2 separate regions of the Homo sapiens genome follow, and region 1 is linked to region 2. Evidence: fine-mapped expression QTL. A gene starts in region 2. The other region holds a variant in brackets. All regions are shown on one strand. Distances are between the middles of the regions.

Region 1 (5,000 bases), 38 kb after region 2:
GGAGAGGCCCTGCTCACCCACCTGCTCAGCGACATCTCCCCGCCAGCTGATGCCCTTAAGGTGAGGAGGCCTCAGCTCCGCCTTAGGACTCATCCTGTGCCCTTTGACCAAGTGTGCCTGCTCAGGAAACACTGTCTGCTGTGGCTGTCTTGCCTTGTTGTTTGCCTGTGGATGTGATTTATGTTTTCTCTGCCTCCAGCTGCGTAGCCCGCGGGGGAGCCCTGATGGGAGTTTGCAGACTGGGAAGCCTAGCGCCCCCAAGAAGCTAAAGCTGGATGTGGGGGAAGCTATGGCCCCGCCAAGCCACCGGAAAGGGGATAGCAATGCCAACAGCGACGTGTGTGCGGCTGCACTCAGAGGTGGGTGAGGCCTGTGCCCTGGACCACTGGGGCTCAAACGGGACCCCATCCTTTCCCCTAGTGGGACTCCCCTACCTACTATACCCTTAGGTGAAACTTTTGTGGGGAGAGTGCCTAGACCAGCCTTCGTCCACTGCGATAAGTGATCCCCCAAACAGCAGGTGAAGGGGAAGGTGCCTGTGAAATGCAGAGCCAGGCGGAAGCCCGCAGAGAGGCCAGGAGGAGGCACCCAAGCAGCCGCCCTGTTGCCAGGGCTGCAGGCGGCCTCGGGTCCTGCGGTTAGACCGGGAGCTCTGGTAGCCGACACAGCCCCTCCAAGGCCTTCGCTTCCTCCGGCGTTCAGCACGTCCTTGGTGTATCCACTTTCTATCAGGCAGAGTTCCAGCATGCGGGGAAGGCTCCTCCCTGTGAAGCTGACATTCTTCCAAGGGCAGGCTGCCTGGGGGAGCTCCCTGCTCTCACCGTAACCACTGACCTGTCCACAGGTTGCTAGTCGGATACTGTGCAGTTAATGGATGCCTTTCCTCTGGGTCCCATATATTTCACTGCCTGCCACCCCATCCCATGGGAAGGGGAGAACCGATTGTTCCCAAATATATAAATGCAAAATTATAAAATTTATAATTTTTTACTTACATTGTCTCAATTAAATACCGTCAGTGGCCCTATACAGTAGAGGTACTTTTATGATCCCCATTTTCTAGTTGAGAAGTTAAATGACTTGGCCAAGATAGGCAGTGGCAGAGTTGATGCCCATTTTGGGCTGTATGCTTCAGAAGCCCTTGCCGTCAGTCTGTTGGGAGCCTACCCTTTACACACCATTCTTCTTCCCCAGGCCTCAGCCGGACCATCCTCATGTGTGGGCCTCTCATCAAGGAGGAGACTCACAGGGTTAGTGGAGCCTCGTCTCCGTGGAGATAGGGGAAGGGGCCCCTGCTCTGTACACATTGGGGGGTGTGGCCCAGAGGTGGGTCCATTCCGACCTGGGAGTAGGCTCTGGAGAAGGGTTGGGTGGTCTTGGGGATGTTTCCAGGTGTGCTCTGTCCTTTTCAGAGACTGCATGACCTGGTCCTCCCCCTGGTCATGGGTGTACAGCAGGGTGAGGTCCTAGGCAGCTCCCCGTACACGAGCTCCCGCTGCCGCCGTGAACTCTACTGCCTGCTGCTGGCGCTGCTGCTGGCCCCGTCTCCTCGCTGCCCACCTCCTCTTGCCTGTGCCCTGCAAGCCTTCTCCCTCGGCCAGCGAGAAGATAGCCTTGAGGTAACTGTGATGGGCCAAGCCCCTCTTTGGTTCCTGGAGTCTCTTGTTTCCAAGAGACTCCCAGTATTTCTGGTGCTCACACTTGCCCTTTCTTCTTTCCTCAGGTCTCCTCTTTCTGCTCAGAAGCACTGGTGACCTGTGCTGCTCTGACCCACCCCCGGGTTCCTCCCCTGCAGCCCATGGGCCCCACCTGCCCCACACCTGCTCCAGTTCCCCCTCCTGAGGCCCCATCGCCCTTCAGGGCCCCACCGTTCCATCCTCCGGGCCCCATGCCCTCAGTGGGCTCCATGCCCTCAGCAGGCCCCATGCCTTCAGCAGGCCCCATGCCCTCAGCAGGCCCTGTGCCCTCGGCACGCCCTGGACCTCCCACCACAGCCAACCACCTAGGCCTTTCTGTCCCAGGCCTAGTGTCTGTCCCTCCCCGGCTTCTTCCTGGCCCTGAGAACCACCGGGCAGGCTCAAATGAGGACCCCATCCTTGCCCCTAGTGGGACTCCCCCACCTACTATACCCCCAGATGAAACTTTTGGGGGGAGAGTGCCCAGACCAGCCTTTGTCCACTATGACAAGGAGGAGGCATCTGATGTGGAGATCTCCTTGGAAAGTGACTCTGATGACAGCGTGGTGATCGTGCCCGAGGGGCTTCCCCCCCTGCCACCCCCACCACCCTCAGGTGCCACACCACCCCCTATAGCCCCCACTGGGCCACCAACAGCCTCCCCTCCTGTGCCAGCGAAGGAGGAGCCTGAAGAACTTCCTGCAGCCCCAGGGCCTCTCCCGCCACCCCCACCTCCGCCGCCGCCTG[T/C]TCCTGGTCCTGTGACGCTCCCTCCACCCCAGTTGGTCCCTGAAGGGACTCCTGGTGGGGGAGGACCCCCAGCCCTGGAAGAGGATTTGACAGTTATTAATATCAACAGCAGTGATGAAGAGGAGGAGGAAGAGGAAGAAGAGGAAGAAGAAGAAGAGGAAGAAGAGGAAGAGGAGGAAGACTTTGAGGAAGAGGAAGAGGATGAAGAGGAATATTTTGAAGAGGAAGAAGAGGAGGAAGAAGAGTTTGAGGAAGAATTTGAGGAAGAAGAAGGTGAGTTAGAGGAAGAAGAAGAAGAGGAGGATGAGGAGGAGGAAGAAGAACTGGAAGAGGTGGAAGACCTGGAGTTTGGCACAGCAGGAGGGGAGGTAGAAGAAGGTGCACCTCCACCCCCAACCCTGCCTCCAGCTCTGCCTCCCCCTGAGTCTCCCCCAAAGGTGCAGCCAGAACCCGAACCTGAACCCGGGCTGCTTTTGGAAGTGGAGGAGCCAGGGACGGAGGAGGAGCGTGGGGCTGACACAGCTCCCACCCTGGCCCCTGAAGCGCTCCCCTCCCAGGGAGAGGTGGAGAGGGAAGGGGAAAGCCCTGCGGCAGGGCCCCCTCCCCAGGAGCTTGTTGAAGAAGAGCCCTCTGCTCCCCCAACCCTGTTGGAAGAGGAGACTGAGGATGGGAGTGACAAGGTGCAGCCCCCACCAGAGACACCTGCAGAAGAAGAGATGGAGACAGAGACAGAGGCCGAAGCTCTCCAGGAAAAGGTGAGAGGCCAGGCAGGGAAGGTTCCTTGGGCGAGAAGGTGGGGCTGGCGGGAGAAGGGGTGGCAGCTGCTTCTCTTAGGAGAGGTTTGCCCAGCCTGAACCATTCTTCTGTGTATGTGTGTGTGACTATTCTGAATCTTGTATCTTTGTGCCTAAAAGGAGCAGGATGACACAGCTGCCATGCTGGCCGACTTCATCGATTGTCCCCCTGATGATGAGAAGCCACCACCTCCCACAGAGCCTGACTCCTAGCCATCTTCTGCACCCCACTCTTTGTTTCCAATAAAGTTATGTCCTTAGATAGCGACTGCTGCTTCTGCCTTTTGCCACACCTGGGTCCCCAGCCAGAAGCTCAAGTGTCTGCTGGGCTTTTCAGGGTGTCCATAGTATTCCCCAGATGTCTCCATAGCTGTCCTCTTTTTGACGATCCAGAGAGGAACAACTGACATTGGTGTAATGGACTGTCCCATCACTCAGCACGATGGTGTCAGAATTGTAGGATTCTGGCTGGATGCTAAACGTGCAGAATTGTGTGTAGGGTTAAGAATGAGGAGTTATAGAGACACAGCCCTGCTTTCGTGTTTGTATTCGGGGTGGGAAATGTGTGGAGAATGCATCCTAGTGAGTGGACCTGTGTCAACACCCACATGCCCACACGCATGCGTGCTCAGCCCCTTGGTCTGAAAGGGCAGGCTGAGTGATTGCTCAGTCTATGGAAGTTTAGGAAATTAGGAAAAGGTGTGGAGCAGTTTAGTCATTGAATTCTGGGAAATTTGGACCTTACCCCAAGATGAAAGGGTGTCCGTAGTGGGTACGTTGGGAATGACCTCTGTTTTGGGGCTAGTCCTCCTAATGACAGTTCCCCTCACAGCTCCCTGGCAGGAGTTTGATAAGCTCACCCCAGGCCTTCCTGCTCACTCTTGAGGTGTGGATATTTCCCACCCAGTGTCTTTTCTTTTCTTTTTTTTTTTGAGATGGACTCCTGCTCTGTCGCCCAGGCTGGAGTGCAGTGGCATGGTCTCAGCTCACTGCAACCTCTGCCTCCCAGGTTCAAGCAATTCTCTGCCTCAGCCTCCTGAGTAGCTGGGATTACAGGCGCCTGCCACTGCCTGGCTAATTTTTGTATTTTTAGTAGAGGTGGGGTTTCACCATGTTGGCCAGGCTGGTCTTGAACTCCTGAGCTCATGGTCCACCTGCCTTGGACTCCCAAAGTGCTGGGATCACAAGCATGAGACACCGCACCTGACTGTCCCAGTGTCTTTTCTTTAAGCACTAATCCTATTCTAGGCCTTGCTGGGATGGACGTGTGAGGATGAACCGAGAGATGTGTCTGTGAGAGGGTACCAAGATTGGTGGGCTTGAACTAGGGGCCCCGTGGTTTTTTTTGCTCAGTCAGTTGAATCATGAACGTAAGTAAAGTGCCTTCGCAATGCAGAAGAGGGAGTCATTTCTCCCAACATGTATCCTGAAGAGCCCTTTGAGGAGGTGGCATTTGAGCTAATTTTTGGAAACTTCAGTAGGATTTTAAAAAGTTACCCCTCAACTTGTTTTCGAAATAAACAGAAAAGTGAGAACAGTATAATAGATAACCTTTGCCTAGATTTGCCAATTAACATTTAGTCATGTTAACTCTTATCCCTATAAACTGCGTATCTACATGTAGACATGTATCTATATTACACCCATATATCTGTCTAATCTATACATCTGTAGTTATACACATTTCTTTTTTCATGGGACCACGTGAAAGTAAGCTGTAGACACCGTGGCCCTTCCCATCCCAGATTCTTTAACATGAATTATCTTCTAAGATAAGAATGTT
Region 2 (5,219 bases):
ATAGATGGGGTTTCCCCATGTTGGCCAGGCTGATCTCAAACTCCTGACCTCTAGTGATCCGCCCGCCTCAGCCTCCCAGAAGGCTGGGATTACAGGCTTGAGTCACTGTGTCTGGCCTGTATTTTGTATTTTTTTAGTAGAGACGAGGTTTCCCCATGTTAGCCAGGCTGATCTCCAACTTCTGACCTCAGGTGATCCACCCGCCTCAGCCTCCCAAAGTGCTGGGATTACAGGCGTGAGCCACCGTGCCCGGCCTTAGGTTGCAGTGAGCTGAGATTGAGCCACTGCACTCCAGCCTGGGTGACAGAGCAAGACTTTGTCTCAAAAAATAAATAAATAAATAAATTAATTAAATTAAATAAAACCACCCAGTGATGGAGCTCCTAATATCTCTGTTTTACAGGTGAGGAAACTGAGGCAGAGAGAGGTCAAGTGTTTCAAGGTCACAGAGGGAGTAAATGGTGGGAATTAATAGAAACCAAGGCAGTCTGGCTCCGAGTCCATCCTCTCGATCAATATTACACTATCTGTCTCTGCAGTTGGCATAAATAGTTTGTTGAATTGAAGGTTATTTGCTTTCCAGTTGCTGAAACAATTTAAGCCTGGACTCCACCCATTGCTGGGAGGGTAAGGAAGTGTTTGGCAACCCCAGTGATCTGGCCAATTGTGGGCCTGTTCTTTGAAGCACCACCTTACTCCTTCCAATCCACTCTGCCTCAGCAGTGATCCCTGGAAAGGATCCTCAGATAGATAGCAGAAACGTGAAATCCTGCCAACTAGCCCATCCCTCTTCCAAGTCTACCACCCCATTCCCAGAGGACCCCAATGGGCAGGTTACCACAGTGTCTGGGTAAGACCTAACCATCTTTCCATCTGGTCTCCAGCTCTGACAGCTGGAGCATATAGGAGAGCAATGACCCTGGCCTTTGGCCCTACATGGTTTCTACCATAGGCCCAGTTTCTGCTACAACTTCACTTGCCCCTTCTTCCCAGAAAGCCAAGCTGTCCAAAGGTTGTAAGGCAAAGGGTATGGAGGGCCCCAGGTATTCCTAACCAATAAAAGAGAATACACATCGATATGGTAGCCGCTAGAATAAACACCCTATCTTTCATCCCAACTTGGGAGCTGAGTGCCGTGGCATCATCCAGGCTCTCCCTCCCCTTTGCTTCTGGTTTTCCTCTTTGTCCCAGGGTGTCCTCCCATTAGGAGCCCTGGCACAGGGCTGTGACAGCCACAATCAGTGGGCCAACTGGAGTGTGGTTCTGGGGCAATTGCCCTGGAGCAGCTGCAAGGCACTTGCCCTTTGGATCCTAACCCAGCCACCTCCTGCCAGGCTGGGGAGGAGCAGCGTGCATATACTAGGCTGGCCAAGGAGGCAGAGTGTGGGGATGACCAGGGAGGTGCCCAGTGGGAGCAGGGGTAGCTGAAGCAGATGTCCTTTCACACTTCCTGCTATTCGCTCCATTTCCTGTGGCCCAGAATTTCATGGGGGTGAGGGAAATTGTGCCAAGTTAGCAGTCTCCTTTGGTCCATCCGTCCCACTCCCTGAACCACATGACGGAAATCAGGGGCCTCCCACAAGTCAGCAACTTCCCCTTTCTCTGGGATGTTTAAACCCTGATCCAGGAGACGGATCATCTCTCTGATGATCTCTTTCTGATGCTCGTCTACTTGATGCTCAGAAACCCGGGTTCTCATACTCTATAGGTTGGAAGTGGGGTTGATATGATGTTTTGCAGAGCAAGCCAGAGCTCAGGACCAATTCCCTATTCCTGATACCCTCTGAGTTGAGGCCTACAGCCCCAACCTTTTCGTCTTTTGCTCCCGCTCCCCTGCGACTCAGGCATCCACCCCTTGCCCCTTGGGGGTGTTGAGTCACAACAGGAAGTGGATTTTGCTAGAGACCAAAAAAGAGAACTCGGGGTATCAGTGGAAGGAAAGAGCCTCGATTGCACAGAAAACATCCGGGGAGTGGACGCGCGCCCAGGGTGAATACTGCCTCCCCCACCCCCAGAGAGAGGGATACGATCTAGTTTCAGGGAGGGTCGCCACGCACTCGGCTCCCCCAAGATGAAGCTGTTGCTCCTGGCAACCCAAGGGAAGGTAGAAGTTTGGGTGAGGAGCCACCCGGCCCTCGGGACAGGTGTGGGCAGCGCGACTACCTGGGGGATATTGGATAGGAGGCTTTCCATTGGCTTGGCGCGAGTCTGGAGTGGATCCCCCCCGTCCCGGCATCCAGCCTCCCCGTACACGACCCCTCGGGGCCAGCCACCTGCTCCTCCTTCCTCCATCCCTGCATCGCAGCCTGCACGGGAGAGCCCAGTAGTCTGGCCCCACATCCCTGCGAGAACCCCGACACCGGTTTTTCTGATCCCCCTCAGGCCTCGCTTTCTGCAGGGGCCCGGGCATTTCCCCCCCACCCTCATTATCCTCGAGGACCTGCGCGTGCGGCCCCGGATGGCTGTCCCTAGGGACCCAGGCGTCCGGCCCCCAGATCCTCTCCGCTGCGCCCTCGTCTGGGACCGTCCCAGCCCCCGCCCCGAGCCGCCGCCCATGCCCCGCCGCGTGGCCCCACCTCCCTTACCTGGTCCCGGGTTTCTCCCCCATGGTGCGCGCGCCCGCCGCCCGCTCGGTTCGCGGCTCGCTCGCAGCCTCCTCGCCCGCTGCCAAGATCCCTGCTCCTCCCCGCGCCAATGCGCACGCGCGCCCTCCGCGCTCTCGCCTCTTCCCCCTCCCTCCCGGCCCCGCTCTGGTCTTGGGGAACCGGGGCCAGATGCGTCAGCCGGATCGCGCGCGCCGCGGCGCTGCCCGCCCTCTCCTAGCAGACACGCGGGGCCATTGGCTCCGCCCCCAGCCCTTCGCGCTCCTTCCCAGCCTGGTAGCCCTCCCCCGCGCGCGGGGCCAGCTCCCACTCCTCCCGCCCATCTCCCCGCCCCGCTGCAACCCCTTGAAACCGATTGGACCCCCCTAAACCAAGGCGCCCGCCTTCCAGGGGATCTAAGTCTTTCGATTGGCCTTCGGCATCCAGAACCTGCAGGGGTCTCCTCCCCTTTGTTTGCTTTCTCAGTGGCGGTGGGGGCGACCGGGCTGCTGGGGGCGGTGGAATGAGCTGAAGCGCCGTCTGGGAAGGAGGATGGTGGGGGGGAACACGTGGGTGAGCGGTTCAATTGCGTGATGCTTGCTTCAGTGCGCGCCGCTCACCTGCTCCACTCGGAGCGTGCCGCCTTCTGTGGCCAGCCCTCCCGCTTCTTCACTGCAGCGTGTCAGCTCCTCCTGGTGTTTGCATTTGATCTTCGCAGGGTTCCCTTTTCCAATGTCTCTGACTATCCATCTCCTTCACCCACCCATCCCAGCTAACATCCACTCACTCACCCGCTCCCATCCATCGGTCCATCTATGGACCCATCCATCCGTGCCTATGTTATGCTATTCACTATGCCAATCGATGGGGACACATACGAATTACCATGGCCCCTGCCTTCCTAGAATAGTTGAGGAGACACATACACAGGTATTACCCAGGAATGCTATTACAGAGGTCTGAGTCAGAAGACACAGCCGCTAACAGCAATTGGCCCGGGCGGGGGTGGAGGGAGTGCAGGCTGTCCAGAGCGGGGAACAGATGAGGACAGTCTTTCTGAAGGATGCGCAGAAGTTTTTTTTCTTTTTCTTGTTTTTTTTTTTTTTTTTGAGACAGAGTCTCACTCTGTCGCCGAGGCTGGAGTGCAGTGGTGAGAGGTGACAGCGTGCTGGCAGCTCTCACTCACTCTCGGCGCCTCCTCGGCCTTGGAACCCACTCTGGCCGCGCTTGAGGAGCCCTTCAGCCCGCCACTGCACTGTGGGAGTTCCTTTCTGGGCTGTCCAAGGCCGGAGCCGGTTCCCTCAGCTTGCGGGGAGGTGTGGAGGGAGAGGCGCGGGCGGGAACCCGGGCTGCGCGCGGTGCTTGCGGGCCAGCGCGAGTTCCGGGTGGGCGTGGGCTCGGCGGCTCCGCACTCGGAGTGGCCGGCCAGCCCCGGGCAGTGAGGGGCTTAGCACCTGGGCCAGCAGCTGCTGTGCTCAATTTTTCGCTGGGCCTTAGCTGCCTTCCCTCGGGGCAGGGCTCGGGACCTGCAGCCCGCCATGCCTGAGCCTCCCCTCCCCCTCCGTGGGCTCCTGTGCGGCCCGAGCCTCTCCGACGAGCACCGCCCCCTGCTCCAAGGCACCCAGTCCCATCGACCACCCAAGGGCTGAGGAGTGCAAGCACATGCGGACTGGCAGGCAGCTCCACCTGCGGCCCCCAAGCGGGATCCACTGGGTGAAGCCAAATGGGCTCCTGAGTCTGGTGGGGACTTGGAGAACCTTTATGTCTAGCTAAGGGATTGTAAATACACCAATCGGCACTCTGTATCTAGCTCAAGGTTTGTAAACACACCAATCAGCACCCTGTGTCTAGCTCAGGGTTTGTGAATGCACCAATCCACACTCTGTATCTAGCTACTCTGGTGGGGACTTGGAGAACCTTTGTGTCTACACTCTGTATCTAGCTAATCTAGTGGGGACGTGGAGAACTTTTGTGTCTAGCTCACGGATTGTAAATGCACCAATCAGCACCCTGCCAAAACAGACCAATCAGCTCTCTGTAAAATGGACCAATCGGCTCTCTGTAAAATGAACCAATCAGCAGGATGTGGGTGGGGCCGATTAGAGAATAAAAGCAGGCTGCCTGAACCGGCAATTGCAATGCACTGGGGTACTCTTCTGTTAGGTAGACCTTTTGTTCTTTTGTTTTTTGCGGTTAAATCTTGCTGCTGCTCCTTTTTTGGGTCTACACTGCCTTTATGAGCTGTAGTACTCGCTGGGAAGGTCTGCAGGTTCACTCCTGAAGCCAGTGAAACCACGAACCCACTAAGAAGAATGAATAACTTCGGAGACACGGCCTTAAGGGGGGTAACACCGCAAAGGCCTGCAGCTTCACTCTTGAGCTAGCGAGACCACGAACCCACCAGAAGGAAGAAACTCTGAACACATCCGAACGTCAGAAGGAACAAACTCCGGATATGCTGCCTTTAAGAACTGTAACACTTGCTGTGAGGGTCCATGGCTTCATTCTTAAAGTCAGTGAGACCCCCTACAAATTCTGGACACTGGTGTTGTGTCGGCTCACTGCAACTTCCATCTCCTGGGTTCCAGCTGTTCTGCCTCAGTCTCCCGGGTAGCTGGGATTACAGGTGTCCACTAC

Evidence for each region.
Region 1: its variant is fine-mapped to the expression of ARRB2 in whole blood (INTERVAL, PIP above 0.99).

The regions. Positions count from the first base shown.
Region 1 is chr17:4,669,869-4,674,868 of GRCh38, reverse strand. It overlaps PELP1 (proline, glutamate and leucine rich protein 1), which reads left to right. Exons shown (of 17, transcript NM_014389.3): 12 at 1-60; 13 at 200-359; 14 at 1,195-1,250; 15 at 1,413-1,619; 16 at 1,724-3,178; 17 at 3,338-5,000. The coding sequence ends at 3,430. Among named protein-coding and RNA genes, the nearest start is that of ALOX15, 31 kb to the right of the region's middle. RefSeq lists an enhancer at 4,673-4,842. The variant T/C (reference allele first, on the strand shown) is at 2,424.
Region 2 is chr17:4,708,111-4,713,329 of GRCh38, reverse strand. ARRB2 (arrestin beta 2) reads right to left here and starts at 2,698. Exons shown (of 15, transcript NM_004313.4): 1 at 2,586-2,698. The coding sequence starts at 2,608. RefSeq lists a silencer at 2,452-2,981 and an enhancer at 2,911-3,080.